4 linked regions of the Homo sapiens genome follow. The protein of the gene in region 2 purifies or fractionates together with the protein of the main gene of each other region. This does not show direct contact. Each region holds a gene or a part of one and is shown on either strand. Other genes may lie near its edges.

What was found.
Region 1: the proteins of PTTG1IP (region 2) and TTC1 fractionate together in Homo sapiens (co-fractionation; one large-scale study listed by BioGRID). This does not show direct contact.
Region 3: the proteins of PTTG1IP (region 2) and NAF1 fractionate together in Homo sapiens (co-fractionation; one large-scale study listed by BioGRID). This does not show direct contact.
Region 4: the proteins of PTTG1IP (region 2) and AP3S1 fractionate together in Homo sapiens (co-fractionation; one large-scale study listed by BioGRID). This does not show direct contact.

Annotation. Positions count from the first base shown.
Region 1 is NC_000005.10:160,061,940-160,069,059, reverse strand, and holds the end of TTC1 (tetratricopeptide repeat protein 1), read right to left. Parts: intron 5,519-7,120; exon of another isoform or gene 5,404-5,518; coding exon of another isoform or gene 5,387-5,403; intron 4,129-5,386; coding exon 3,995-4,128; 3' UTR 3,517-3,994; downstream 1-3,516.
Region 2 is NC_000021.9:44,854,831-44,862,997, forward strand, and holds part of PTTG1IP (pituitary tumor-transforming gene 1 protein-interacting protein isoform 1 precursor), read right to left. Parts: intron 6,442-8,167; coding exon 6,333-6,441; intron 1,535-6,332; coding exon 1,363-1,534; intron 427-1,362; coding exon 380-426; intron 1-379. UniProt on the Homo sapiens protein: May facilitate PTTG1 nuclear translocation.
Region 3 is NC_000004.12:163,144,696-163,152,862, reverse strand, and holds part of NAF1 (H/ACA ribonucleoprotein complex non-core subunit NAF1), read left to right. Parts: intron 1-4,428; coding exon 4,429-4,522; intron 4,523-6,998; coding exon 6,999-7,081; intron 7,082-8,167. UniProt on the Homo sapiens protein: RNA-binding protein required for the maturation of box H/ACA snoRNPs complex and ribosome biogenesis.
Region 4 is NC_000005.10:115,905,085-115,913,074, forward strand, and holds part of AP3S1 (AP-3 complex subunit sigma-1), read left to right. Parts: intron 1-1,736; coding exon of another isoform or gene 1,737-1,772; exon of another isoform or gene 1,773-1,777; intron 1,778-7,004; coding exon of another isoform or gene 7,005-7,052; exon of another isoform or gene 7,053-7,990. UniProt on the Homo sapiens protein: Part of the AP-3 complex, an adaptor-related complex which is not clathrin-associated. The complex is associated with the Golgi region as well as more peripheral structures.

The sequences.
Region 1 (7,120 bases), on a different chromosome or scaffold from region 2:
CAGCCTCAGCCTCCCAAAGTGCTAGGATTACAGGCCCTGAGCCACTGTGCGCCGCTGAGAAAAAATAGCAAGTAAGCCTCCTAAGCTGACATTTGAATTACTTGCTGGGTCTTAAAATTTATGGAGATGACTAGTTTCTATTGATCTTGAGGTAACAGATATTGGTTAGTAGTGAAGGAGACATTTGAAAAAACAGGCATTAAATGGCACAGAATTAGAAGACTTTTGAATACTGATGGTTGTTCACACTAAAACCACGTCTTGTGGATATCCTTTAATACCAGTTCACTAAGTCTCTAATACAGTGGTAGCTGCTGGTGCTATTAACAACATAAATGTGGCCCTTTCCATGAGCTCATGGTCTACTCAGGAGGCAGATGAGAAAGAGTAGATAATATTTTAAAGAATGTTTCTCAGAGTCTCCAGGGCAATTCTAAAAGATCAAAAATTATTATTTTTTTGAGACAGGGTCTCACTGTGTCACCCAAGCTGGAGTGCAGTGGCACGATCTCAGCTTACTGCAACCTCCGCCTGTTGGGTCCAAACGATTCTCCTGCCTCAGCCTCCTGGGTAGCTGGGATTACAGGCGCCCGCCACCACGCCCGGCTAATTTTGTATTTTTAGTAGAGACGAGGTTTCACCACATTGGCCAGGCTGGTCTCAAACTCCTGACCTCAGGTGATCTGCCTGCCTCAGCCTCCTAGAGTGCTGGGATTACTTGAGCCACCGCACCCAGCCTCCAAAAATTATTTTGACCCATTGCAATATTGTCGGAATAAGAATATGTACAACGTCACAGTATGATTACCTTAAAAGTAAATTCTGGTATGCTTTTTTGGTGGTGGGTTAGGGGGAGCATCACAGAACTTTTTATTTTTTGAGATGGAGGCTTGCTCTGTCACCTAGGCTGGACTGCAGTGGCATGATCTTGGCTCACTGCAATCTCTGCCTTCTGGGTTCAAGCGATTCTCCTGCCTTAGCCTCCCAAGTAGCTGGGATTACAGGCATGTGCCATTGTGCCTGGCTAATCTGTGTATTTTTAGTAGAGATGGGGTTTCACCATGTTGGTCAGGTTGGTCTTGAACTCCTGACTTCAGGTGATCCGCCCACCTCGGCCTCCCGAAGTTCTGAGATTACAGGTGTGAGCCACGGTGCCTGGCCAGAGCTTTAAAATCACACATTCTAGCAGCAATAGGCAAATACAGGCCACCTTCCTTCCTTAACACTTACTTTCTACTTTTGAAGTCTGAAGATTTTCTATGGTCAAACATTTTCAAAAGGTTTGAATATATCTTTTCTTACAAATGTTGGAAGCAGCAAAGTAACAGTGCCAGATAAAAACTCCTTGGCTTAAGCAAGCTCACACCTACTGGGATCCTTTCCTTTCCAGACAATGCACTGCTTGGCCCACCCACTGGGAGCATGTAATATTGGCCTTGTGTAGCATCCTATAAGATTTCAGTGTGATTGAGAGGAAGAGGAGGAGGAAGCCTAAGAAACAAAACCTCTACACTCGTGGCAATGGTAGTCTCGGGCATCTTCTCTTAACCAAAGCTGTTTCTAGACGAACAAGTCTATTTCCTATTCCTTGGAGGCACAGATAGTCCTTCTGGAATCTCAGCCCTGATTTTGCTAAGTCTCAGCCATTGAGCTCAAGGCACGATGTGACAGTAGTTCTCAAAATGTAGTCCAAGGATCCATAGGTGTTCTGGAGACCATTTCAAGGTGTCTATCTGTATTTTGTATTATGAAAGCTATTTTCATAAGACAAAATTTTGTCTTATGAAAACTGTTTTCATAATACAAAATTAAAGAGTCTATTTTTTTCACTGTTATCTTGTCAGTGACTGCACTGTGATCTCAGGACAAACTGAATATAAGAGATGTGAGACTCTTGCTGTTCTCTATCAAGCCATGCATTAAAGAGATGTGCAAAAATGTCATTCTTCTCACTAAAATGTGTCTTTGAGTTGGAAGATTTTTCCATAAAAATTGTAAAAATTTCAGTAAAACTTTTTTTTAGAGACAAGGTCTCGCTGTCACCCAGGATGAAGAGCAGCAGTGGGATCATAGCTCACTGCAGCCTTGAACCCCTGGGCTCAAGCAATCAATCCTCCTGCCTCAGCCTCCCAAGTAGCATGAAGCCGCTACGCCTAGCTAATTTTTTTTTTTAAACTTTTTTTTGTAGAGATGGAACCTTGCTATGTTGCTCAGGCTGGTCTGGATCTCTGGCCTCAAGCAATACTCCTGCGTTGGCCTCCCAAAGTACTGTGATTACAGGTATAAACCATCCATCGTTCCTGGCCTGACATAAAAGTATTTATAGTAACAGGAAACATGTTATTTTTCAAAGGGATTACTTTAACACTTTCTATCTTAATTTTTAATATACTAAATATTGATAGAATGCACATAAATGGAAATGCTCTTAAAATTTTTTTTTCCAGACTATGAAGGGCTGCTGAAATAAAAGTTTGGGCACGGTGGCTCACGCCTGTAATCCAAAGCCAAGGTGGGTGGATCATCTTGAGGCCGGGAGTTCAAGACCAGCCTGGCTAACATGGTGAAACTCTGTCTCTACTAAAAATACAAAAAATTAGCCAGGTGTGGTGGTGCATGCCTGTAATCCCAGCTACTCTGGAGGCTGAGGCAGGAGAATTGCTTGAGCCTGGGAGGCAGAGGTTGTAGTGAGCCAAGATTGCGCCACTGCACTCCAGCCTGGGTGACAGAGCGAGACCCCCCTCAAAAAAAAAAAAAAAAAAATGAGAACCACTTTCTAGCATAATGCTGGCTGCACAGGAAGCACCGAACACTGACTACCAGACCATCCAGCATTCCACACGGTTTCCATACAACTTGTGTGATTTTTCACACACACATTTTCAGGAAAATTGGATGCCAGATTTAACAGTTTCTTCTGAGGTTCACTTTGACCAAAAGAAGAAAAAAGATAAAAAGCTTTTAGGAACAGATGAGAAGAACCACATAGTCCTTAACACTGGGAGTATGACTGACTACTGCATGTCACTTACAGAATTATATGTGTAATTTACATCCAAGATGAAACTTGCATGTCAAGCTTTTGAGACTCAAACCAGAGCAACTGCAAGCTTCTCACTAGCATCAACTGATGAGCACAAAAAAATTCTATCTTTGACACCTCTAGGTTCATGTAGTTTAAAAGAATATGGTTTTGTTCTGGGGTTCATATACTACCATTCCTCAATGAAGCTATTTTAAGTTAAAAATATTAACATTTGGTCAAACACAGATTTATAATTATCTATACAAACCTGGAGGGGCCCAAGATAGCTTGTAAGGTGGACTTTCTGAATTCTAGTACATGGTAGAATGGTCAACTCTTCAAGATAAATCTTCAAGGCAACAAAAACTTTGGGCAGATCTGTGGAATCTGGAATCAGTAACCCTGCTTGAAACCAACACTGCTCCCAAAGCCAGAGAAGGCTTCTGCCTTAGTTGTCGTTACGTGACAAAATTCACAACCTAACCCAGACCTAAGCACAGAAAGCTTTTATTACCACAGAGGAAATCAGGAAATGCTGGAGGCAGCCTCGTTAGCTGTGTGATCAGGGAGGGGACAGCAGGCGGGAACCCGTCATCAATCATGTCTGGGCAGTCTCCCAACCAACAGGTTTGTTTGGTTCAGGAGAGGCTTTTGCTGGGCTGTGTGTGTGTATGATCAGGAAGGTCAGCCTCAACAAATGGGCTTCTTCCTGGACATAGGACAGCCAGAATCGGGGACACCAGCTGCACAGACACCACCTTAAAATGGAAATCAAATTAGGTTCATTACATCAGGAAGTACATTTCACCCTGATCATAAAAGAGGGACAAGGGAGCACTGGGCTCTACTGGATAGCCTTTCTTTTAGATAAGATGCTTTTAAAAGTTAAACATTGGCAGGGCCTTTCCCCTAGCTAACAGCAAGCAGCACACAATTCCAAGTCAGCTTGTAAAGCTTTTGTTATCTTTGTTATCTGTTATTATTTGGATTTTGAACGAAATTGATGGAGTACGAGCCGGTAGAGGAATCCTGTTTGATCTGGAAATTTTCCGTGGAGAGCCCAAAAGGTCGGAGAACCAAGTTCCCAAGATCTTTTAATTTACCTGTAATGTAAAAGCAAAAACTCAAATGAATACAGGAATGAACAGAAGCAGGAAGGTACCAATTAATCTTGCCTTACCACTGAGTACAAAATATAAAAGTATCTCTTTGCAGTTAAAGAAATGCCTACTTTTAATATGATGAAAGCTTCCAGGAGAGTTCCCAGCCCCTATTCCCCACTCAGCAGTGCAGTCACTTTAATGCCATCCACCCTCAGCCTGTGCTTGCATAGATGAGAGTGGAGTCCTGCTGGCTCTCTCTGGGAATCAAAGCCTCCTGTCCTAACTGGCCAGTGCTATCAGAGGACACAGGCTTCTGGGGTGAGTTCTGGGAAAACCAACTGCTGTTCCAGTGAGGCTCAAGGCACCCTGCCAAGCCAGGTCTGCCTGGTAGTGAGGGCAGAGGTCCCTCCAAGTCTCTTCTCTCTAGAACGGCAGCAGCCACCTGCTAAATGTAATTCAACTCAGCCCATTTCCACTGAGCTTGGATTCATATTCAAGAGCTTCCTGCTTTCCTAAACAAATCCTTAGCTTCTATACCAGACTAGCCATTTCTTAGAAATGGGATCATCTTGATTTGCACAGCAACCTCAATAAGACCTCAATAGTCCAGCCTCCTCTTCCCAAGTTTCAGGCTTTATTTACACGACTTGGGTGAGGTATATAGGATGGGCGTGGTGGCTCACGCCTGTAATCCCAGCACTTTGGGAGGCCGAGATGGGTGGATCACCTGAGGTCAGGAGTTCGAGACCAGCCTGGCCAACATGATGAAACCCTATCTCTACAAAAAATACAAAAATCAGCTGAGGGTGGTGGCATACGCCTACAGTCCCAGCTACTAGGGAGGCTGAGGCAGGACAATCGTTTGCACCTGGGAGGCAGAGGTTGCAGTGAGCTGAGATTGCGCCACTGCACTCCAGCCTGGGTGACAGAGTGAGACTCCGTCTCAAAAAAAAAAAAAAAAAAAAGTCATGGTCTATAGCCAGCGGTTCTTGCCAAGCATGGTGACTCATGCCTGTATTCCCAGCACTTTGGGAAGCTGAGGCAAGAGGAGGGTTTGAGCCCAGGAGTTCAAGACCAGCCCGAGCAACGCAGTGAGACTCTATCTCTACAAATTTTTTTTTTAAAAACAAAAAACAGTTCTTATGCTGTTTTAAGATATAAGGAACATCTGAAACTAGGAATGTTCCAGAAAATTTTGGCAGGGATGGGTGAATAAACAGTTTCAACCCTTTCTAAACTGCTTTAATTTTTCTTACAGGTCTACTTCCAGTGGAGGTGAGAATGGGGGTGGACGAAAAGAGAAATCCCTAATCACCAGAGGTACAGGCTCCTTCCCACTTCTTAGCAGCTTTTCTCACTCTGAGGCCTCCCATCTTAGAGTAAAGCCCAGGTAAAGAACTTAAAGGTGCATGGCCTTGGCTGGGTGCAGTGGCTCACACCTGTAATCCCAGCACTTTGGGAGGCTGAGGCAGGAGGATCATGTGAGCCTAGGAGTTTGAGACCAGCCTGGGCAACATAGGGAGACCCTGTATCTACAAAAATTTAAAAATTAGCTAGGTGTGGTGGCACACACCTGTTGTCACAGCTATGCAGAGGCTGAGTTAGGAGGATTGCTTGAGCCCAAGGAGTTCAGGGCTGCAGTGAGCCATGATCATACCATTGCACTCCAGCCTGGGTAACAGAGCAAAAAAAACGCATGGCCTTTACATTTTACAGGCCTCCCTAATAACTCATGGTGAGAACTTTTAGTCTCAGGCTTAAGAACTAGCCCAAGGAAGCTCACTATGTCCAGAGAAAGGCCAACCCATCTTTGGATAAAACAGTAAATTGAGAAAGCTCCCAGAACCTGGGATGGCTGTTCTCCAGGCAGGCCTCCCAAACCTAAACCTGGGACACACACGTTCTGTGCTGCTGCTTGTGTCAGGAAATCACTGGCATAAACCCTGGGTGCCTGCACAAGGCAGCGGCACAGCCTCGGGCACATGGGCGTAGAGGGAGGGGCTCACAACAAGCAAGAGAAAGACAGGGCAGCCTCAGGGTGACCTGAGTTAGCAACACCAACCAGGAACGCTGGCAGTTTGTTCTGGGGTTGGAAAAAGAGGACAGGAAGGGGGAAAAAAAAAACCATCAAAAGCAGCCCAAGAAAATGTTGGTACTGGGAAATCCTTGGCTCTTGTGATATGGAGTGAGTGAAGTGAGAATGAGTATCAAGAGCCACTCACATCAGACTCCTGAGGAGGGGCAGCTCCATGGTGGAGAAGCCTACTCTGGATGGTCCACTGAGCCCAGGGCCATTACATGGATGGAGGGATCACTGCAAGCCCATCTCCAGTGCCAGAAAAACAATTTAAAGTACAAACTGGAAATTTTACTTGGCATCTATCATGTAAGCCACTGGGATGTAAAGAATAAAAGTAGCTTCTATGCACAATGCTCAGTCTAGTGGGGAGGCAGACCCAAAAGACGGAGGTGTGCCCAGAGGTGCTTTCTGACCTTGCAGTGGCACGAAGAGGCTACATGCCACAGTGCTCCGGGGGATGGGAATAGGTCCAGGGTGGTGGCATGTCACCGTGCTCCAGAGATGGCAGCTTCCTCAGGCAGCAATGGCTTGGCTTTAGGCTGGTCTGCACTAAAGGAGGTTTCCCTCTAGTGCAGAAAGACCATTCCAAGCTAAGACTGCAAATATTCAAACTGCCGACGAGAGGAAGAATTCTCTTTCCCAGGCCCTCGTTTTGCCTAACTGGCTAAAGGGCCTGTGTGCCACAAGCCACCTTTGAACTTTTAGCTTGGTTGATTCTATGGTGTGGCAGTCATGAAGATGTATTTCTCCAAATGCAGGGGACAGAGTGGCTGCACTCTAAAATCCATCAGCACATTCATGCAGAGGCCACCCTTCCCACCTGCTGCTTCCAGCCAATGCCTGAGCATGGGAGGGACTCGTCTGAGGGGCAGCACTGGCTCCCCAATGGCTTTGCTGAAACTTTCTCAGCAC
Region 2 (8,167 bases):
AGCAACGCTCCCGAGGATGAGAGGGCCGCCCTGAAACTCACAGCACCTCGGCTACGCAGGCGTGCCCACAGGAAGCCAAACACGACGGCAGAACAGCTGCAGACTTCCAGCCCAGAAGTCTTGGGACTCGATAAGCAAACAGCTATCTGAGAAAACAGACTTCATGAAGACGACTGGCTGAGATAAAGATATTCTTAGGAGTGAGTTCACCACAGAACCGCTGGGGACAACCGCCAGCTGCTCCTCTCTGGAGAGACGTCCTTCTGTTCCGATGGGTGAACCCACAGCCCCATCTCAGGCCACACTGGCACTAACGAGGACCGAGACAGCGTGCCATCGCCTCCCAACCAGACAAAAAGGAGGCGTGACCAGTCCTTACCATATTTTTTTCTGATTTCATCATGTCTTGTCTTCATCTCTGCTCTCCTAAAACACAGAGGAACATTATGAGCACCAAACGACAGCGCACGGTGGTGTAACTGCTAGACACGCCCTTCCGTGTCCCTCAGTGGGGGCGCCAGGTTTCTTCTGGTGGCTTCCCTCCAGTTCCCAGAGTGAAACCAGGGTGAGGACAAGCTTGGTCATCAGGCCACATACCCACCAGGACAGGCAAGGTGACAACGAACCCAGTCTTCAAAGGCCGTTCCAATGTATTACTCTACTCTTTTCAATAAAAGCAATTCAAATGCCCAATACCGTGATTTTTAAAAAGCTTTTTTCATACAAAGAAAACACAGTAAAAATCATACACCAGGTTCTGAAGATGGTGAGGAAAATGCGATTGTCAGCTTTTACTTAGTAGCATGTGACTTCAAGGTGACTACATGGAAAATCTGTCCCGCTTCCACCCTCGCCCGCCGCCAACCTGACAGTTGGCCCCTCAGGTCCTCTCCTTTGCCAGGTGTGGATTACACCACCTCCTCCTGGGGTTGCCCCAGAGCCCCAGCAAGCACTCAGGAGAGTGCTGTGTCACCAGGGAAAGGGCGACAGGAGAGCTGACCCAGCCACAGTCAGACGCTGTCCCCTCTGAGCCTCAGCTTGCTCTTGGCAAATGCTGGGCCTGGACGAGCCGCCTTAGCAGCCGTCACACACCCGTGTCACCGCGCACAGACTCAGCCTTACTGCACCGATGGGAGGACACCGGGCGAGGAAGCCTATAGAAGCAAGGTTCGCAGCCACTGCTAGGTTCCCATCACAGTCTCTCGCTCTCTACCACGACCTAGAAGATCCCCTGGGCACTATACACATTCTTAATTTCTAAAAACTGAGGAAAACTCAGGATGTATCCATGTGATTTCCATGGCCTTGCAGATCTGAATCCCCTCGAAGTAACCTTCCCAGCGGGCATCACCACCACCTCACCGTTCCTCCTGCCGTATCCGCCTCTCCTCCCGCTCACGCATGGCCTTCTCCTCACTCCTGTCCGGCTTCCGGCTCCTCTTCCTCCTGCAGCAGCAGCAGCAGCAGATGGCAATGCCCAGGAGGAGGGTTCCCCCGACTACCGACATGGTGATGATCAGCGCCTCAAAGTTCACTGGAGATTCAAGCACCTGGAGTTAGGGCCGCCCCAGACACAGAACCCACCCAGCACAGCAGCCTTCCCTCGCCCCTGGGGAACAACCTCAGGACACAGGAGCATAAGGAGGAAAGCCGCCTCGGCCAGGCTGCTGGCTCCTGGCGTGTGGAGAGCCTGTGGCCCTGCCTCCACCCCACAGGGTCCCGCCCTCTCCAAGTCTCCTTTCAGCCACACGTTCCTATCTGTGACTTAGAATTTATTAACAATTTATAATATTAACCATAATGAACTGAAGTGACAGGGTAGTCTGTCTCAGCTGAGTTTGAAAAGGTATTTCAAGCCTGAGAAAAGTTAACTAACCAAAATTCCAAGCTACATACTCAGACTCTCGTAAGACATTCTAAACTCACAGAAATGGAGGTTAAGCCTGATGCAGCTTTCTTTTTTTTTATTTAAACCAAAGTCAAGAATATTACAATGATTTACAAGAGAAATAGACTCTCAGGGCACATACTGGCGGCCAGGTTCGAAAAGAATGACCGTGGAGGAGCGGACGAGACCACGGAACAAGACGGGATCATCTTCAAATCTGAGTGTTTTGAGGACCTTGGGGCTGAAGAACGGCTGGCTAATCGGTCCCAAACCCTGTTATGATTTCCTTAACCAGCCTTCAGACACACGTGCACATTTAAAACAGATCTTACTATCCTTTTAAACTTCTTTTGAAGATCTATACATTGAAATCAGCCAAGATTTTTCCATTCAGTTCAAACCAGAGGCAATTAAAAAATACCCTAAAACTACTTTTGCAAATGTGTTTTCAATCATGTAGTTCAAACAGCCTCCTTGGCTGGACACAGTGGCTCACACCTATAATCCCAGCACTTTGGGAGGCCAAATCGGGAGGATTGCTTGAGCCCAGGAGTTCAACACCCGCCCAGCCAACAAAGTGAGACCCAGCCCTGCCCATCTCTACAAAACTGTTTAACAAATTAACTGGGTGTGGTGCATGCACCTCTGGTCCCAGCGACATGGGAGGCTGAGGTGGGAGGATCGCTTGAGCTTGGGAGGTTGAGGCTGCAGTGAGCCGTGCCTACACTATTGCACTCCAGCCCGGGCAACACGGCAAGACACCATCTTGAAACAAACAAAAAACACCCAGCCAGCCTCCTGAAGATGGCTTTATAAGCAAACTCCCCTGGGCAGTAGATTACCGCATGATTCACTGTTTTTAACTACAGTTAATAGCTGTGCCACCACCACAGGTGACACCGTCTCACCTCCAGGGGCTGGGAGTTGAACACTTGCTGCATGCCTGGGCCCTGGCAAGGAGGCCGACGGCCAGGCCTCTGGGGCTCCCGCAGCCTCACCCCTCTGCTGCCCCGGACGCTGAGATCCGCATTTCTTAGTTTATTAAAATAGTTTGAAAATCAGGAATAGGAGGTTACATCTGATCAAATGCCTTTTGAGCTTTTAATCCTGTGTTTTTTCCTCCTCTGACCTGTTCTGGAAGCGTAGAATTGCAAAAATTATAGTAAGAGGGAGAACTACAGAGGGGACCTTCATTGGCAGAAGATGTCATTTTCTGACTGGAGAACTCCAATGAGATCAACAAGATGGCTGGCCTTAAAACATATCTACCCCTCAGATAGCTTTTCTGATTAGCAGCTAAAACTAGTTAAAAACAAACAGAAATCCTGTCACAATGGGAAACAAACTCTGGGCTCCTTTTGCTGATTCCATAGGGTAAAACCCATGAACTTGAACTTGAACCAAAGGATGTGGGAGAGGCCTGAAAGAGAGGCATCTTTGCCTCTGGACAAACGGCCAACGCTGTAGACATTTCATTTTCCTTCAAGTAAGCATGTTTATCAGGCCATTACAATTAAAGCTCCAAAATAATTTTGGCTAGAACTGGATAAAATGGTTCTAAGGTTACCTGTAAGAATAAACAAGGACCTGTGGTGCAAGACCTAAAACGGGTATCATGTGCGCCGCGGCATCTGGTGAAATCAGGAGGGCCCTGAGGGCCCGGCCACAACTGCTCCTCCCCACTCTGCTCCCGTGGGCAAGGCTGGACAAGGTCCCAGCTCAGACAGCCTCTTCCTCCTCCCGGCAGGGCCAGGCACACTTTCTGTTTCTCCCGGAGGAGCAGGTGTCAGTTCCCTCTCAGCCTCAGAATTAACCAAACAAGCCCATCGCACCCCACCCTCCTGTCACGAAATGGCTGCCTCCCCGAGCCCTGTTCCCCTGCGGGACCCTGCGTGGCGTGTGGTGCCCCCTCCCCACTGTGACTGTGACTAGTCACCTGCTGCCGCTCTCATGTGCAGGGCTGGGTGTTGTGTGTCCATCCACTTCTGCAGCCTAGCGTGGGGATGTCATTTCACAAGAGAATTGTCAAAAACACCCACCACTTGTAAAGGTGCTCAGCACGATCGGCTAGTCACTGCAGAAATGCAGGTGAGAAGCACAAGACACCACTACACACCCACTAGATGGACTGAACTTAGGGTGACTGGTTACCCTAAACATTGGGAAGGATGTGGAGCAACCAAGTCCCACATTGCCTGAGGGAGGCCAAACTGGTACAGCCACTCCAAAAACATTTGGCAGACGTACTAAGGCTAAACACAAATATGCTCCGTGACACAGCAACTCCACCCCTACACTCCTCCAGACGTGAGCGCCTGTGCCGGCACCAACACAACACCGCTCACAGCAGCACCAGAAGGACCCAGGCGTCCCTGAGTGGCAGCATGGCTGAACAGCTGTAGAACACTGCACGAGAAAGATAACTGGTGCAGGCAATTGACACGAATCTCGGGCACATGCTGAATAAAACATCCAATAAAGCACAGGATTTCCTCCACATAAAGGCGGGAACCAGTAACATTAATCTGTGGTGACGGGAAGTCCAGTCAGTGGCTCCCATGGGGGTCCTGACAGGAATTGGGCCTTCTGAAAGTCCTGGAAGTCCTACCTACTTTGCTGTGAGTGGTGATAACCTGTATACGTATGCAAAAATGCACTGAATATATGTACGCACACACGTGTGCATTATGTAGGCTATAAGCCGCGGTCCATGTAGGCACACACGTGTGCATTATGTAGGCTATAAACTGCGGTCCATGCAGGCACACATGTGTGCATTATGTAGGCTATAAAGTCCATGCAGAGAGAGACTTCAGATGTGTGCACTTCATGAGAAGCTACATGCCATTAAAAACACCTCCAGAACAGGTGTTCCAAAGGGCAAGGCTCCCCAGGTCCAGGAGCTGTGTCTTCAGAGTGGTCATTAAGAGAAGTTCCATGGAAGGGATGAGTTCACAAACACACATGCATCACACACAGTACACACATCACACATGAAGGTGCACACACACCACCACCACCCCCTGCCAGACATCCCACACTACAACCACCACCACCACACAAACTTTTGAATTCTCTAGGGCCTCAACACCAGCAACAAGTTGTTTCAGATGGAGGCTGATAGATTTTGAAATGGAAATCAATTAGAAGAGTGGTAAGTAAGACGTAAGTTGCAGAGGGATCCAAGATGCAAATAAACAAAAAGAATCATCAAAACACCTTAAGAAAATATTGCTTCTTTACAAAGTTTAGGAACCCTATGTATTACCCCAAAACCTGAAGCCTAAAAGATTAATAAATTCAACTACATAATAATGAGTTCTAGGTTACAAAACACACCACAAACTGATTTAAAAGGCAAACTACGGGGCTGGGCGCAGTGGCTCACGCCTGTAATCCCAGCACTTTGGGAGGCTGAGGTGGGCAGATCATGAGGTCAGGAGATCGAGACCATCCTGGCTAACACAGTGAAACCCCGTCTCTACTAAAAAATACAAGAAATTAGCCGGACGTGGTGGCGGGCACCTGTAGTCCCAGCTACTCAGGAGGCTGAGGCAGGAGAATGGCGTGAACCTGGGAGGCGGAGCTTGCAGTGAGCCAAGATAGTGCCATTGCACTCCAGCCCGTCTCAAAAATAAATAAATAAATAAATAAAGGCAAACTAGAAAACAACTTGAATCTCACAAGAGCTGATTTCCTTAATTTAAAAACGCCTCCAAAATCAAATATACAAAGATACGCACACAAAAAAAGAGGGCTGTCTACGCAAGCAGGGATTCTTAAGCTGGGAAAACTGGAGATTCTAGGGGAATTCACAGGTGAGTTTCAGGGGTGACACATGAACAAAACATACTGAGCAGAGAAGTCAAACACGTTGCCTTCAAACTCACCCTTTTCCCCACACCTTCTGTAACGTGGTGAGATAGAGCTCAGTGCTGGGGCTGACCACCTTGAAGGAGGTCCTCCAGGTTCCCCAGGGCTGCTTTCCCGGTCAGCAGATCACCCCTGGCTTCCCAACCTCTCCCTGGGAGTCACAGAGCTACTGGCAGCACATTTTCTAGCAACTTCTGCTAACTGAGCACATAATACTATTTTCTTTTTTTTTTGAGACAGTCTCGCTCTGTCGCCAGGCTGGAGTGCAGTGGCACGATCTCGGCTCACTGCAAACTCCGCCTCCCGGGTTCAAGCAATTCTCCTGTCTCAGCCTCCCAAGTAGCTGGGATTACAAGTGCATGCCACCACGCCCACCTAATTTTTGTATTTTTAATAGAGACGGGGCTTCACCATGTTAGCCAGGATGGTCTCAATCTCCTGACCTCTTGATCCACCCGCCTCCGCCTCCCAAAGTGCTGGGATTACAGACGTGAGCCACCGCGCCCGGCCCATACTACTATTTTCAAAGAAGCATCGATTTTGCAAGCAGCAAATGAAAACAATGACTTACCCCAACAAACTCCCCAGCGTGCAGAGCTCAATTTACAAAGGGAAGCCGGTGGCAAGACGCTTGTAACTGGGTAGTCCAGACAAGCCTTGTTAGTGTTGCACCAAAGACACTGAAAGAGACCAACATTAAGCAAGCATTAGAAACAACAGAAAAACCAAAGAACTGTCCAGGCTCTGCCCACAGCCCGCCAGTGCTGCCATCGCTCTGTGGATGGCTGTAAAGGCTCAACCTCCCCCTCAACGCCTCATCTCTGCCTTCACCCTCAGCGCCCTTCGGTCCACACCCAGCACAGCGGCCAGCAGCCCTGTCAGCTCTCCACGGACTCATCCAAGGCCCGCGTCACTCAGGCCTCTTCCACAACTCACCCTGCTGAGGCCACGGGGCCTCTGTGTTGGCAGCCTCCTGAGTGCTGCCAACCCCACCTCATGCTCTCAGCCTCAGCTCAGCCTGCCGGTTCTGCCTGGAGCACTCTCCCCACATCTGTGTGGCTCCCCACTGACTGGATGGGCCCTGCCTCGATCAACAGACTGGACACAACCAGCCGCCTCCACCCCCTCCTCCTCACCTCCTGTGAGGTTTGCTTCCGTAGACCTCTCCTCCCCACACGCCGGGCACCTGTGCACTTCACTGGCTGAAGTCTCCCAAGAACACAGGACACAGCCTGGCCCATCACAGGCACTCACTGAGTTTGTGTTGAATGGACTTGGGTGAGCATGGTCACCATCTGTAGCAAGGACCATGCTTCCTACCTCTGACCTTCACAACTGCACTAAGTCGCACAGCTTGAAAGATGATGCAACTACGGCTCAGCCCGCCCTAAACTGACAGCTGGAGAGAACCTCATAGACGCTCTTGTCTGAGCCCCTTGAACGTCAGGTGTGAGGCCGCAGTGGTGTGGAGACAACACCATCACACCCGTGTGTGTGTGTGTAAGAGCCCAGAGCTGGGCCCAGCCCATGCCACAGCAGTACACAACGAGGCCCGAAAGCGGTCTGTGAGCCAGGCACTGAGCGTGACAGGGGACAGCCTAGCACGCAGGCAGATGGCACAGGAAGGGGTGAAAGAACTGCTGTTCGGGTCAGGCACGGTGGCTCACGCCTGTAATCCCAGCACTTTGGGAGGCCAGGAGGGCGGATCACCTGAGGTCAGAAGTTCGGGATCAGCCTGACCAACATGGAGAAACCCCATCTTTGTTAAAAATACAAAATAAGCCGGGCGTGGTGGCACATGCCTGTAATCCCAGCTACTCCAGAGGCTGAGGCAGGAGAATCGCTTGAGCCCAGGAGGCGCAGGTTGCGGTGAGCCGAGATCGCACCATTGCACTCCAGCCTGGGCAACAAGAGTGAAACTCCGTCTCAAAAGGAAAAAAAAAAGAACTGCCGTTCGGCAGCACCTCATGCGCCAGCCCAAGTCCAGACCCAAGTCCAGACTGCCTGTTACTCCCAATCTCCACATTAACAGTGTTACTGACTTTTTAATAGGATAGAAAGTCATGGCGTTTTTGGCCCAGGTTAGGGCAAAAGTCTATTACAAAAAAATATTAATTACAATGTCCCCTGGGCCTTCTTTCCCAGGGCTACTTATACAGTGACCACCTTAGTGTCGTGTTTAAGTGGTTTCCAGCATAATGTAACAATTAACAGTTAAACCCTGTTTATTCTGGTCATTTGGGAGTATCTTCCATTTCAGGGGTTTTGCTTGCAATTAACGATTTTTGGCTAATCCTCCCTTTTCAAGTGGCTCAAGTTGTAAATGTCTGATTTTCCATTTTTCCATGACAGTGGTACCATGAGCCACAGGACTGCACTGGGAGGATACGGTGTTCTCTGGTGGTT
Region 3 (8,167 bases), on a different chromosome or scaffold from region 2:
CCCGCTCGCGCCTCTCCCTCCACACCTCTCTGCAAGCTGAGGGAGCCGGCTCTGGCCTTGGCCTGCCCAGAAAGGGGCTCCCACAGTGCAGCGGTGGGCTGAAGGGCTCCTCAAGTGCCGCCAAAGTGGGAGCATAGGCAGAGGAGGCGCGGAGAGTGAGCCAGGGCTGTGAGGACTGCCAGCACGCTGTCACCTCTCAGTAGGATCACTGAACTGGTATTGGAAATATGGTGGTGATTTCAGATAACAGTGTCTATGTCTGTTTTCCCCAAAGTTTGGTTCTACGCAAAATCAGAGAACCTTCACCTTTGTGGGCAAAACTTTTCATTCTTCCAGTACATAGGTTGGAAACATGGAACAGCAACAGGAACTAAGAGGGCCTGCCAGACACTGTTTTTGACCAAAATTGTGAGACCCTGACTCACTACAAATAATCTGGCTTTATATATTTTCCCTTATCTTGGTCATACTGGATGTCTCCTAGTACTCTTTAGAGCAGAACATCAGGACTTCATCAGACCTTGTAGACTGAACTGCTCAACTTACAGGAAATTACGTTATAATGATCTCAAAATGATAAAAGAATATTTGATGAAACTCAACACTTATTTCTGATTTTAAAAATTTTATTAAAATTGGAATAGATGGATACTTTCTTAACCCATTAAAAAGAAATTCCGATAAAAATGCATCATTATGCTTAGGATTTGGAACATTCCTATTAGCAATGTCCACTGTCATCACAATTGTTTCATATTTGAGATTCTGGAATTTGGAATTGTCAACCAGTATCATCTGAAAAATGAAAGCCATGTACTAATATTGAAAAGAAGGACAACTTACTCTTTGAAAATATGGTTGTATAATAAATATACAAGAAAATTACTAAAAGTAAATTTCAGCATGATGCTTTCTTATGTTCAAGCAATACCCTATAAAGGGTCTATTTGTAATAGCAATAAAATATATTAGATAGGAATTTATAATAGCAAGTAATATATAAAATAGCTTGGAATAAGCCTAAGCATTTGTATAGGACCCTTTATGAAGACAACTGTAATTAAATGTGATCTCAATCAATACTGATAACACTAATATGACAAAATAGTTCTGAAGTGTAGTGAGATAAATATGTGAGAACAGTTAAAAAAAATTCCAAGGGGAAAAATATTTATGGATTGGGTAAAGGAACTAGCCCGTCATCTCAAATATTGAAATGTTTTATGAAAACCACAGTTGTTAAAATAGTTTAGTACTGACACTGAACTAGATCAGTGAAATTGAATGGAGATTCAGTAAAAAACCCAAATATATAAGTGTACTTAGTATATGTTAAAGTTTGTTTTTCAAATCAGTGAGAGAAAAGATGGATTATTCTACAGCATGTCAGGATAACTGGCTAGTAGTTTGGATAAAGATAAAGCCAATCACTGCTGCACTTTTATACAAGAATAAAATTGTGAATGGACCAAATACACAAATATTAAAAAAAAAAAACTAGAGAAATAAAGAAAACAATAGTGAATTTTCAGTGATTTTGGGATAGGGAGGACCTTTCTAAATGTGACACAAGTTTCAAAAGCCAAATATGTATATATACTTGACTACATAAAAATTAAAATGCTAAAGGTTAACTAAATGACTGAAATTGTTTAGTTTCTTTAGCTAAAAAACATGCTGTGGGGTAAGGGAGTGGATATTTGCTACATATTTGATAAAAGACAAATGTCCTTGAAAATCCAAAGGTTTTTTTTTTATAAATTAATAAAAGATAAGCCCTTAAAAAATATGTAAAGTTATACAAGAAACAATTCATAACACACATAAAAATGGCCAGGATACATGCAAGGATGTTCACTCTTCTTTATGAATGAAGAAATTCAAATTAAAGCAAGATACTATTTTATATTCATAAGACTGGCAAAGATTTAAAATTTACTTATCAGTAATGGCAAGGTTGTGGGGAAATCTCTCATACATTGTGGAAATGTGAATTGACGTGACTTTTTAAGAAGAAATTTAGCAGTAACTGTCAAAATTTTAAATATGCATGTGTTTTAGTCTATCAGGACCACTTAAAATAATTTATCACAGGGGTTACACAAAGATATATGTAAAAGAATGTTGTATCATTGTGTGTAGTGGCAAAAGTTTTGAAAGGGCAGATATATGTTGTGTCAGGCAGCTAGTGTATTATAGTACCACTGATAAAAGTGGAATATCCTAAGTGTTTAAGGATATATGTTGTGTCAGGCAGCTCGTGTATTATAGTACCACTGATAAAAGTGGAATATCCTAAGTGTTTAAGTAAAATTAGATATATGTTTTTGTTTGTTATAGAAAGATATGCAGGGTATGATCAGTAAAAAGGGTACCTTGTATTAAAATATGGATATTTTATTTAAGTAAAAAATATTTTGAAGTTAGAATTAAAGTTTATATCTGCATAGTAAAGGTATTTGAAAGATACATGTTAACATTAGCTGTCTATGGGGCTTGGCACTGGGTGGTTGAAAGGAATAAAGTAGGGGAATTTTCACTTTTTACTTTGTATCCTTCCATAACTGCTTGAATTTTTCCTTTTGTAAAAATAGGAACATGTTTTACTTTTTTACTTTAAACAAACAACAAAAGCAAAACAGTATCAGTTTAGATTTATATCAAAGCATAACTATTATATTACATGGGCCTTTATTTCTCATAATAGAAAATACAAAACCAGGGGCCTTTCCTGCTGGTTAAATAGCACTTGTTTATTTGAGAATATTTAACCAGTAGGCTTTATCCCAATCCAAAAGTACTCAAATTTTTGTTTTAGATCTTATAATTTGGCTAGGTAATGGGACAGATTTTATCACTGTACTTCTGGATTAGCAAATGACATTTGCCACTTAACAAGAGGAGCCACTCCCAGAACCCGAGTCAATGTGAAACTCCCCTCACAATTGCCCTCTGAAATATCATTAAAGCCCTCTTCTCTGCAGTCCCCCAAAATTATAGTTATCCAGTCTTGTATTTAACAAGGTTTGAGATTGCTTTAGCTAAGAACTTCTGTAAAAAGGCTATTTAATGTCACAGTTTGTTCTAACAACTAAACTCCCTTCTGCATTCTGATACACACATGAACCATTTTCAAACCATGGTCTTCCCAAGATAAGGCTTTCCACGTTTAATATGATGAAAGGGCAAGTGGTTATTCTCTCTTTGAAAGTACTCATAAGAATTCTGATGGATAAAACAAAATAATTTCCTCTAACACCAGGCAGACTAACCATACAAAGGCATGTTGCTGACTTCCTTCTGCATCAGTTGGTTGAGACCCGTAGTGTTGCTCTCCATAAGTAATCCTGTATCAGAAAATAGCATATCCCAGAAACAAAGTGTATTTTAGATGTCTGCTTATCAACTCTGGTTGAATGATTTTAAGAACCTAGTTTAAGTTTCCGTAGGGGTAATATGATTACTCAGGATGCATTCGTCTGCAGTATACTTCATGTTATGTAGGTTTTCCCACCTTTTCCAACATTTCTCCAAAAGTTATCCTTCTCCCAGTTTAACTGCTAAAATGCCATTGGTAGGGTCTTTGCACTTCAAGCCATCTTGAGGAAAAGCTTCCTTCTGAGAGTTAGATCATTTGGCAAGGGTCAAGAACAGAAAGCTGTGTTTTTAATCTAAAGGCTAAGGTCAGATTTATTCTTAGATTTCTCTTCAGATTCATCTGTACTTCAATATCTAGTTTCCATAGCAACTGAGATGCAGTTTGCAGGTGGGTAAGAAAAGAGAAATCTTTAGGTGTAAAGAAACTTATTTTTTAACCTAGAGAGAGAAGGTATCAGGCAACACCTTCATAGTTTTTATAGGCTAAAGCCTATATTCTTTTTTCAGGACTTCAATGTTTCACTGATAGGTGTCATTTCCTTTTTCCTGAAGAGGCCATTCAACTCTTCTTGACACAGTCGCAGAAAAGATTGCTGCTTCTGTGTTCTGTTTAATCACAGTCAAACTAATTAACTAACCAATTTAACAAGACAGCTAAAAGAACTTATGTGGAGAAATTATAGTTACTAGTAGAATTATTTCTTTTCAAATGGAATGTCTCTGCCTGATAATAGCCTTTTTTACAGGAAGTAGGTAGTCTCTTGTTCAAGTGTGACTGAAAGAATGTAGAATAGTACTTATGTCTGTGTTCTTAGTCTAACTGAATTTGGGGTGTATACTTGAGACCTGTTGAGTCACTTAGGTGGAGAAATGTTGGAGGGAGAGAAGTGCTATCACAAGTCTGCAACCACTAAAATGATAACATTAAAGAGATGCTCTAAGCACTTAAAGCATTTTCAGAGATGTGTAGCACTTAAAATGGAAAATTTATTTTTTTTAAGTTGTTGAAGCTGGAGGAAGTTTAATGTTTTGTTTTGTTTTAAATTATAGGAACTGCCTTCTGTTGAAGAACTCACTATTATTCTGCCTGAAGATATTGAGTTAAAGCCTCTTGGGATGGTTTCAAGTATTATTGAACAACTAGGTATGTTAAGAATTCTATTAATAAAAATTGTTTCCAAACACACACTAATAATTGAATCAATGACTTTTATGACTAGTAAATTTTCTTTGACATACGTAATTAACACTTTATTTTATAGTCATTAAGTTTGAAGGGATAAAATTCAGTTTTCATATACTAAAATTATATATAAATACAGTTTATTTATAGAAATTTAAATGTCTGCTTTTACTGACATACTTCCTCCGGAATTTCCTTTGATTTGGTTTATTAGTTTTCTAATGTTGCTATACCAAATTACTGCAAACTTAGTGACTTACAGCAGCACAATTTTATCATACAGTTCTCATGTGGGTCTCAGTGGGCTTAAAATCAAAGGTGTTAACAGGGCTGAGTTATTTTCTGTAGGTACTAGGGGAGAATCTTACTTCCTTGCTCTTTTTGGGTTCTAGAGCCTGCCCACATTCCTTGACTTTTGGCTCTCTTTCTTCATCCTGAAGGCCAGTAATGTAACGTCTGTCTCTGAGCCTTCTTCCATTATCTCACCTCACTCTAACCACATGTGGAAAGGTTCTCTGCTTTTAAAGACTTTTTAGATTGAGTTTACCTGCATAATCCAGGATAATCTCCCCTATCTCGTGGTCCTTAACTTTAATCACATCTGCAAAGGCTCTTAAAAATGTAATGTATTTACAGATTCAGGTATTTAGAGTGTGGATATCTCTTGGGGAGCCATTCTGCTCACCACCTTTGATTTTGTCTTAAAAACATGTGAGAAAGTTTTGTAATTTAATACTGTTATTAATGGCATGAAATATGAAGTTGCTGAGTTATAAGAGAACTTAATATTTTAGACTTCTTTAGCCCCAACATGTGAGTTTGTTCTGTGAGATTCTTGTTAATATAGGTACTATTAACTCGTAGTAGGATATGCTGGAGAATAGAACTCAGCACTGACAAAGTAATAGGATTTTGGAACTGTGAAGAGGACCTAGATTGCCCACCAGCCTCCACAGGACCTGAGGAAACAGAAAAATTCAAGTCAGTTGCTCTTAGGACCAGTTGTATAGTGAGTCAGTGGTAGAAATAGGACCTTTTTCTTTTGACTTTTTTCTAACAGTGTCTATATTGATATTTTTAAAAATTAACACTTACATAATTTTGTACTTTTTCAGTTTATTAATAAAAATGTAGATTAAAATGAACCTTCTTTTCAAAAATAATAATTAAAATTCTTTCCGTGATTCTGGAATCATTACATTTACTAGTTTTAGAGTTATGGTATTTAATAATATATATAGATAAATCAAACAGGCAACTAATTTCTTGATTATGTGGTATGATTTAAACATTTATTAGACTTGATGTATACAGAAAAATTTTAGGTCATAATGTTGATCCTCAAAAAAATAAATGTAAACTCTGACGTACATGGAATAATGCATGTCATTTTTGCATTTTTAACAATACTATTTTGACTAACATAGACTGAAAAAATTCTCAACCTAATGGGAATAAAGAGTAAATGGGTCAAAATCAGCACATGCTACTGTTGCAGATTTTTAATAGAGATTTTTAATAGAGACAAGGTCTTGCTACGTTGCCCAGGCTGGTCTCAAACTCCTGGGCTCAAGCCGTCCTTCCTCGCCAGCCTCCCAGAGTGCTGCAGGCGTGAGCCACCGTGCCCAGCCTGAAGTATCCACTGTTAAAATTAATTGAGATACAAAAGAAATTGTTTGAATTAATTTTGATAATCTGAGGTAATATATTTTATTCCCTTAGTTGACATGGTATTATCTATGTAATGTAACAGTGTTCTTACTTGTGGCTCTGATGTTCTAAAAACTTATTGAGAGTGTGTTTGTGTGTGCGTGTGTTTTCTCTTTGTTATGGTAGATCAGTTCTTTAATATTTGTGTCATTTAAAAGAACTGGAGATTTGGAGATTATGTTTTTGCTTTTTGAGGAGGGAATTTTCATGTAATGATAAAAATTACTGTGAGCTCTAGCACTTTTACTTCTTCTGTTCATAGGAAGATGCTTTTGTGAAGCCTTTTATTTAACTTTTTCATATACCAGTAACTAAACAGTGCTTTGTAGAAAAGAATTTTTAAGAGTGAGAAAGAAGACTAATTTCTTCTAAAACAGTTTTACAACTAAACGTGATTACACTATTTTTGGTAAAAATTACTTGAGAATATGTACATAGCTTGAATTTGTTGAATCTTTAATGGATGATTCAGATTTTCTGTGGGATTTGCATTTTAATTTTTTTCCCTTAGAATTATAGCTTTTTGTATTAAAAATAGGTATAAAAACATTTCCCAGTGCTATTTGGTAATAAGTAGACTTTGTTTACTGAAGAGAAAATGGTTAATGAGGTAATAATCCCACCTTCAATTTTTTTTTAAATTATGTTGGAATTAAAGCTTAGATTTTCATTAAAATTCTACATTCTCTTATAAGTAAATCTTGAAGTAATCTATTTTATTTTTCAGTAATAATTGAATCTATGACTAACCTACCTCCAGTTAATGAGGAGACTGTAATTTTTAAAAGTGATCGACAAGCAGCAGGAAAGGTTTGTAAAACATTTCAAATCTTACAAATTATTCTATTTATTTATTGTTTTTTTCTGACTTTCCCCATCAGTTCTCAGAAGAGTTTATTTATTTTAATTGATGGACAATCTAGAGCTCTCTAATTTCAGTACGTTCTTGATTTCCTTTAGTACTTCATATCTGTCTGTAAATTGGTTTAATACTGATTATTACTCTTTGCCACATGAGTTATTAAATACACATATATAGAATTCTTTCCTAGTGTTTGTCAGATAACTTGCTAGGCAGTGAGTCTACGTAATGCATAACACATCGTTTCCTACCGTCCAGATACTCAGCTGAGTGAAGAAGACTTCCCATAGTATAGTAGCTCTTAAGCATTTTTGTTTTGTGAGCTCCTTTGAATAGTGGCTCTCAGACTTTTCAGACTTTGACTTCCTCAGGTGGAAGCTCGGTGTGGAATCTTTTCCAAGTGGAAAAATATTTCACTGACAGCAATGAATTGTCACTGTAGGCACATCCTGGGGAATTACAAATATGTGCATTCAAGTAATTACTATAAGATTTGGTCCCTTTTAACATCTTTCTAATGGAACAACCCTGCATGTCCACCTTAATGTAGAAAACTGTGCACTTTACTCAGCAACTAGGCAATTCTGACTGGTTGGCAGAAGACATAAACATTCTAAAATCAAGAATGTAAATACTAAGTAAGTATTTATTTCCTGGCAATAGGGACAGTTTTATTCACCTTGATATTCCCCATTGTATCTAGTACAGTTCTTTGTAAATTATTTGTGCCAAGTAAATGTGTATTGAGTTGAATACAAACAAATAAGAAAGGAGCTATTTGTGATTTTCATGACAGTTGTCTTTTTTTCTTAGTACCTAACTTAGACAATTTTAATCTGAAAATACTCAACACTTTGCTAAATTAAAACCTCTAAACAGACATTTTTTTTGTATTTCCCACTACATTTGAATTTCTAGACCTGTAAATGTGACTAATATTAATATTCAGCTGTCATTTAGATTTGAAAGGAGTCAGATAAAATATAACATTTACACCTCTAACTTTAGTTATATGGCATAAGCCTGTTGGCAAA
Region 4 (7,990 bases), on a different chromosome or scaffold from region 2:
GCTCAAGGTCATCCCCAAGGTCTGATTTTTCACAAAAAAAAGTTTGCAACCTCCGGCATAAATGGGTTAATGTGCTATATTGACAAAAGTTATGAAGGACCTATAATTATTGCATAATGGGTATTTGCTTTTTGATTGTTGAATAAAACTTCGTTAATGAGGCAATTTTTCTTATCTATAAAGAGCAGTAAAATGCGTAATTTACATTTCAATGGAAATAGTTATAAGAATACTATAACTTAAAATCTATTCACAGAAATAATGCTATTTAAAATAGTTTAGAATACTGGTGATTACTTCTATTATTCATTCCCTGATCATCTCGCATCATACATAATTGTTATCTGGTACCAAATTAGTTTCTCTTCTTTTGTCTTTTACAAGAAAGTATGTTTTAAGTCTGATTGGGGATAAACTACAAAATTATATATTTTCTATACATGTAACGTCTGCTAATATTTTAGTTATGAAATCGGATTTCAAGTCAAAGTGAGGCCATTTAGCCCTGATCATCTTTTTAAAACAGCACTGAAAATTATGATGACTAATTTTTCGTAGCTTTTGTATATTTTAAGTATGTTTGAAAGGCTTCTAGCTTTATTCCAGCTAGAATGTCAAAAGCTTTCATATGTTTCATGTCCATGTTACTTCAATTGGTTAAATTTACCAGAGATATTACTCTGCAGAATAATCCAAAATTACTTGAAACAAAGTATAAACTTTTCCTAATCTTCTTACTAAATTTCAGTTAAAATGTATTATATAAGGACAAACTTAATGACTTGTTTGGCTGGGCGCAGTGGCTCACGCCTGTAATCCCAGCACTTTGGGATCACTCAGGTGATCTGCTCACCTGAGGTCAGGAGTTTGAGACCAGCCTGGCAAATATGGTGAAATCCCGTCTCTACTAAAAATACAAAAAAATTATCCAGGCATGGTGGCACTTGCCTGTAATCCTAGTTGCTCTGGAGCCTGACGCGCAAGAATCGCCCGATTCCGGGAGGCGGAGGTTGCAGTGAGCTGATATTGCACCACTGCACTCCAGCCTGCGTGACAGAGTAAGACTCCGTCTCAAAAACAAACACACAAAAAAAGACTTGTTTAAAATCGAGAATGTCATGATTGATGAAAAGAACTGGTTATCAATATTTTTAAAAATTATTTAAGTAATATCTTAGGAACATCATTTATATTTAAAAATCAGTCTGGGTATAATTGAGACACAGCTTTTTAAACATAACATGCATTTATCTAGGGGCCTTTGTCAGAAATCAGAGCTTTTATTATGTTGGTCTAAAGTTAGTACATTTCTGGTAATGGAAAAAAGTGAACCAGTTTAATTCCCAATACCTAGACAGGTGGAAGCAAAGCTCTGCCAGATCCTGAAAGAGAGAAGCAAAGATATACTCTGAATGTATTTCCATCTATTCTATTTTGATAGAAAAATGGTTTACTATAACATTGGAATATTGGGAGAGGAGGGTTTAAGCTGGGAGGTTGATGGGATTCGGGGGAAGTATAAGAGGCACTCAGGAACCTGCCTAAGAATAAAAGGACTCCCTGGGGGTGGAGGTAGAGGGGTGGGGTTGGGGAGATCTGTTAGCTTTTATGTATTTCATGTTATTCTTAAGATGGATAAATGGGTCTGAATTTAGTCACTACTTTTTGAAAGTCAGTCCTCTTTTTTTTCCGAACATCCTGATCTTTCTAGCTCTTTCCATTCTTCTCTCTTACAGACCTTTATCTTTCAGTCTCCCAGACAGGACAGGTAGACAAGGTATTGCTGACTTTGAGAAATATGTACTATAACAAAGGGAAAGCAAAATGATGTCAAAGGCAATTAATTATTTAGGCCAGACTCAAAAATTCTTTGTGTTAATAAACCCATATAGTCCCTGTAGCCTATTTTCCATTCTAGTTTCTCCTTGTAGTTTCTTCATCTTTTATTGGACTTAGTGTATTTTACTAGTATATCATTGATGTCATGTTTGTTCTGTTTTGTCTGCCTGCATTGTAAAAGGAAAGTTTAAATTTTTTTTAAACACTTGTCATCTAACTGACAAATTGCATTTGCAGAAGTGACAATTTACTTTGTATATAAAAACGTAAAATTTATTTTGAGCATCATATAGCAGAACCAATCTTAATTTAACTCTCACAGATTTGTTTTTTTTCCATCTCTAAATTAGGATTCTAACATAAAATTGCCTGCTGGGTTTTGGAAGCTGTGAATTTAAAAACCAAAAGCTGAACCTTCAGAGTTTTGCATACAAAATGGGAAGCAGTGAAGGCTTAGAATAGTGACTGTTAAATAGTACTTTTTCCCCTCAAATGGTTTTCAGTTCCAAAGTCTTAACAGAATTGCTTTTACAGTTTTGACCTGCAGGTGCATATTAACAGTGGCCAACAGAAAATAAGATCAGAAATCTTATAAAACTTGACTGTATTTCAAACTAGAATGCTCGAAAAATGGAATTACCAAATTACCAAATCACCAAAATACAATGGGTTTTCATTGTAGCAAACCTTCTGACATCCAAACATGTCATAATCAGAATCAATAAAAATATATTAATGTTTTAGTATTGAATTAAAAACCCTGAATATTTTTGCAAAGCGTATTGGCAAATATTGGAAATATTTTTAATAGACCTCTAGTTTTACAAAACTAATTTTTCTTCTGATATTTCCTGTACGTTTTTTCACACCATAAATTAACTGTGTGAATTACTTTTTTAAAAGTTCCATGTACGTGGTGATGAGCAACTATTTTGTGTGAAACCATGTAAGCAAAAGAAATGTTTATAAGGTCTCTGATTGAAAATTTCAAAATAAAAGTAATTTATTGAGTCCTATGGAGGAAAAAATGTATAAACTTACGAAGTTAGATTATGCACTTACTAATTAGAAAAACATCACTGAGAATTGATGATTGTGGTGATATCACAAAGCATTGCCTTTTAGCCACTAAATTTTTACTTACTCTCTCGATGTGTTTGAGAAGAAGTAGCAACATACAGGTGGCTTTATAGTATCTTATTTTGAGATTGTGGGCTATGTCACAAAACTGGGGTACCGTTTTTGGTCCCTCTATCCATGTTATTTTGTCCCTCATATAGAGAATACATAGTAGTCTCATTCTCACCATTGGTCAGAATTATTGCCAGTTTCTGTGTTACAGTATGTAATTTATTACTGCTATTTTCCAGCAAAGAACCATTAATCACTTGGGTCTGTTAACTTTATTGCTAGAACTGTTAATTGGCCTTTTTTAAAAAAAATCAAGTTTCTGTTTTCAAAGAGGAGAGAATAAGAAAAGTGGCTCTAAGGTACTGATGGTGGAAGGTCAGCTCATGAGCTGGTTCTGCCTCTCTACCTTGACATACACATTTGTCTTGTACTTCTACAAAATTATGGTGAGAACCCTTGAGGTCACTTGTAATGGTCAAAACTAGTAATGATAAATCCATGAAAGTCATTAGTCTGCTCTCTTTTTTTCATGCAGGCAAATCCTATGTTTGAAATTAAAGCTATAATTGAAGATAATCCGTACAAAATGACTAATAATTTGGAAGGTTTTTTAAATTTTTGAGCACTCTAATTTTGTTAAAACTGTGAAACACCATAGTTATTGCTGTCTAGAGAATTGTCATGAGCTTATCTAAATGTTTATAATTGCAGTATTAAAGCACTGCCATTAAAACAAAGCCTATTATATATCCCCAGATTAAAAGTTATTCTACCTCGTGTTGAGGGATTTTTTAAACTATTGACATTTTCTTTTTTGCTCAAAAACATGCTTTCAAAATCTGCCATTATTTTGTTAATGATTTTGAGTCTGAAACCATTTAATATTGTGTTTATTAATGTTGGTGTTCTTTCACTTTGCTGTTAGGTCAAAATTATGAATGTGCATATAGCAACTTCCAGCAGGAAGGGTGGGTAAAGGTTTTAATACGTACAGTTTGTTCCAACTACCATCTTATTATGCTGTATTCAAACTTGAAAAAAAAAAAGATATTTTAAGATGGTAGGATGGTATTTTATGTCTTAGATGAAATAAATAACAAGATTACTCTATTACTTTCCTTTTCCCTTCAAGAAAGTTGATTGTTTATTGCATGAGGAAAAGGGAGCTTTCAGGGTCTTCGAAATACATTTTAGTAATGCTGCTTTTTCAGTTTTGCTTGCACATATTTTGTTTATTTTTGGGTCTGGCAATTTAAAAACAAAATCAAAAACAAATCATATCCATCCATTACTATCTTTGTGATTCAAGTGCTTGAAATTTCCAAGAGTATGTCTGTATAAGTCTTTATCTGTTTGGCCTCATTTTGGTATACTTGCAGACTTCATTTTGTTTTCTTTCTCTTAATTCTGTTAATTTATTTAATCTCATGGGAGAGAAAACATGATCATTCTTTTATATACTGTACTTCATTCTTTCATCCAGTTCATATTCTTAACTGCTTTGGATTCATATATTTGTTTTTATTGGTGTAGTCGCTGCAGTTTTACCTGCCATGGTGGTGCTCAGGTATAACATAGATGGAAACAAGTTATTTCTCCAGTAGAATTTCATTCTTTTTATTTCTGCTGTGTGTCAACTATATAATCTTAAATCTTTAAGAACTATGTTGTACTGTCAGAAATATCTTACTTTTACGTTTAAAAATGTATTTACAGTAATCCCCCCTTACCTGTGTTGGGTACATTCCAAAACCCCCAGTGGATGCCTGAAACTGTGTATACTACTGAACCTTATATATGCTATGTTTTTTCCTATGCATATATACATATGATAAAATTTAATTTATAAAATAGGCACGGTAAGAGATTAACAACTAATAATAAAAGAGAACAGTTATAACAGTATAATGCAATAAAAGTCATGTGAGGCCAGGTGCACTGGCTCACGCCTATAATACCAACACTTTGAGGGGCCAAGGCAGAAGACTCACTTGAGGCCAGGAGTTTGAGCCAGTCTGGGCAACACAGTGAGACCCCATCTCTACAAATGTATATTTTTTACATTAGCTAGGCGTGGTGGGACACACCTGTAGTTCTAACTATTCAGGAGACAGATGGGAAGATCACTTGAGCCCAGGAGTTCAAGGCTGCAGTGAGCCATGATTGCATCACTCACTCCACTGTGGGTGACAGAGTGAGACCCTGTCTCTTAAAAAAAAAAAAAAAAAAAAAAGTTATGTGATTGAGGCCTTTCTCTATCACAATATTGTACTGCACACACTTATTTTCAGACCACAGTTAACCACGGGTAAATGAAACCATGGAAAGTGAAATTGCGGGTAAGGGGGGACTACTGTACTGCTAACAAGTCAGGTAAACAATTTCTGTAAGTTTTAGCGTTGAAAAGTTAAGTGTTAGTAAAAGTTATTTTGTTGCTTTGAATGTATCTTACTGGAAAAAAAAAAAATCTTAACCAAGATGAAAATTACTTCATACCTCTGTGTCAGCAAACTGATTGCCTAATGGAAAGTTACTTTACATTTTATGTTTTAATAAAAATGTTTCAGGCATCACTTTCATGAATGTCTGAAAATGAAATTTGTTTTATAGCCATTCTGGTGTTGACTGAGTGACATAAAGTCTTTTTTTTTAGCCCTAAATTTTTATATATAAACATTGCTAGCTGGTTTAAACATCTGTTGATCAATTGTCCTTATCATATTTTCTCAACATTTTATATTTTGCATAATATGATTTCTTTTTAAAACGTTAGTTTAATTAAAACTTAAAGCACCTATTACAACTTTAAATTTTCCTACCATTTAAATTCATGGCATACTACACAAAAGTATTGAACATGCTTGAGAAATAATTTGATCCTCCTAATTCATTTGCGTGTTCTGAATAGTTCCTATCTTTTGCATGTCTATGGCTTGCTGCTTATGTTTAGAAGAATTGTAGTTTGTTGTACTTAGAAACTTCTTTTGGTTTTACATATTAAGCACAAATATGCTATTTAAATCAATTGCTATATTGACTTTATGTATTCTTGTTAGCAGCCAACAGTCGACACCATCTTTGGTCACAATGATACAACTCAATCTAATGAAATTTAACAGGATGCATTTTTAAATTTTTTTAATTTATTTTTTGCTTTAGTTTAGCTCTTCATGGTACAGGATATTATGGAAAAGAGAGCTTCATGTACATTTAATACTGAAAACATTATGTTTACTATTTATAAGTGTAAACCATAGTGTCCAATAAAATACACAGATAAACACACACACACACACGCACAATTTCTCTCACAATAATAAAATCCCTTAATAATTCACACCTTTAAAATATTTATACTCAAATATTTTGTCAATACTTTTCTATAGTCAGTTCATTATTTGTCTTCTTTATGGAAATTCCTAAGTAAAAATAGTGGCAAATTGGTCTTTTAACTAGAAAAATTACAAAATCCTCCTATCTAAAAAATGATACTACCTCCAGGACGTCTGCAATTTTGTAAATTTTTCTTCCTTAGTAGACAACATACTTCCTGGTAAAAGAAAGCCAAAAGATGGTAAACCTCTTTGAATTGGATTCTTCTTTGATCCCAACCCACTCTAAATTTTGGTAGCTAGACCTTTAACTTGAAACGATCAAATTAAAGACCCTTTCAAATATTATACATGCTGCCTTAATTATTATTTAGTTGTATCTCCAACATCTTTGGGGGAGCAGGAAGGAAGGGGGGGTAACAAAAACTTCATTGCTTCAGGTAGGTATAAGTATAGAGGTCAATCACATTTTTAGTTGTACATCAAAAATAACTAACATCCATTAAATTATAAAACTTCTCCAGCCCTATTCACTATTTAATTGGGTATGGAGTTATTCATTTGTATCACTCTTATCATTGCCTGTGTAGAATATACTTATTATTAATACTATTCTACTAATTTTTCTATTATTTCCAATTCTGAATTGATAATCCATGGCTTTTATTTCATTGCTTAACAATGTTTGTATCCTTTATTTAGCAAATAGTTTACACTGGCCTATTTTGTATCAGTCAAGATTTTTCTCAGGTAACAGCTTTATTATTATTTTTATTTTAATTAACAAAGGTAGGATTACATAAGAAAAGAAAACTAAAATTATGAAAAGGGACCTTAAAGCTAGTGTTTCTAATTTTATGGACATTGCCATATATAATCTAATCAAAGTGGAAGATTCGTTTTTGTTGTCTATTTTTGTACAAAATGATGCCACTGAACTCAGATGTCTTTGTTGACTTTGCTTTATTATATAGCCTGAATAAAAAGTAATGAAATGTAATTGGTATATAAATTAAACCTCAAATATGAAGGCTGTTAACGTAGGTGAGAAAAATGATATGTATGCATTTTCTTTTATTTGTAAGCATATTTTCTTTTAAAATTATTTCACAAATTACAAATGTTCCTACTAATAGGAAAGCCAAATATTATGCACTAGTGGTACTTACTGGAAATTTTAGAATTCATTTATTTATATTTACTACCTCTTGCATTTATGCTTTTCTTTCTCTAAATTTGTAAACTGTAAGCTGAATATATGTTGCTGAATCTATGCTATATGACAAAACATTTTTAATCGTTATATTTTTACTAATGCATCAAAGGGTTGGAATGATCCTCTTCGTGTAGTTTCATCTTTAGGCAGAACTATATTCTTTGGATTGAGGCTTTACTTGAAAGCCTATTTTTTTAATGTTCTAGAACTTTATTAGAAAAGTTTAAAAGAGCCCTCACAATTTAAAAAACTAATTTTATTGTTTTAAAATGTTTTAAGGGTTTATCCCTAAGAAATTAAACAAGCACAATCTATTACTTGCAATTTTTATTTCACAGCACATATTGCTAATAAATGCCATTTTAAAAGCAAAAGAAAATCTATCACAATCGTTGCAAGAGATATTTAATAAGGAAACTAATGTAAATCATGCTTCATGCTATCTGTCAGTTAAATCAAGATATAGGTGAAG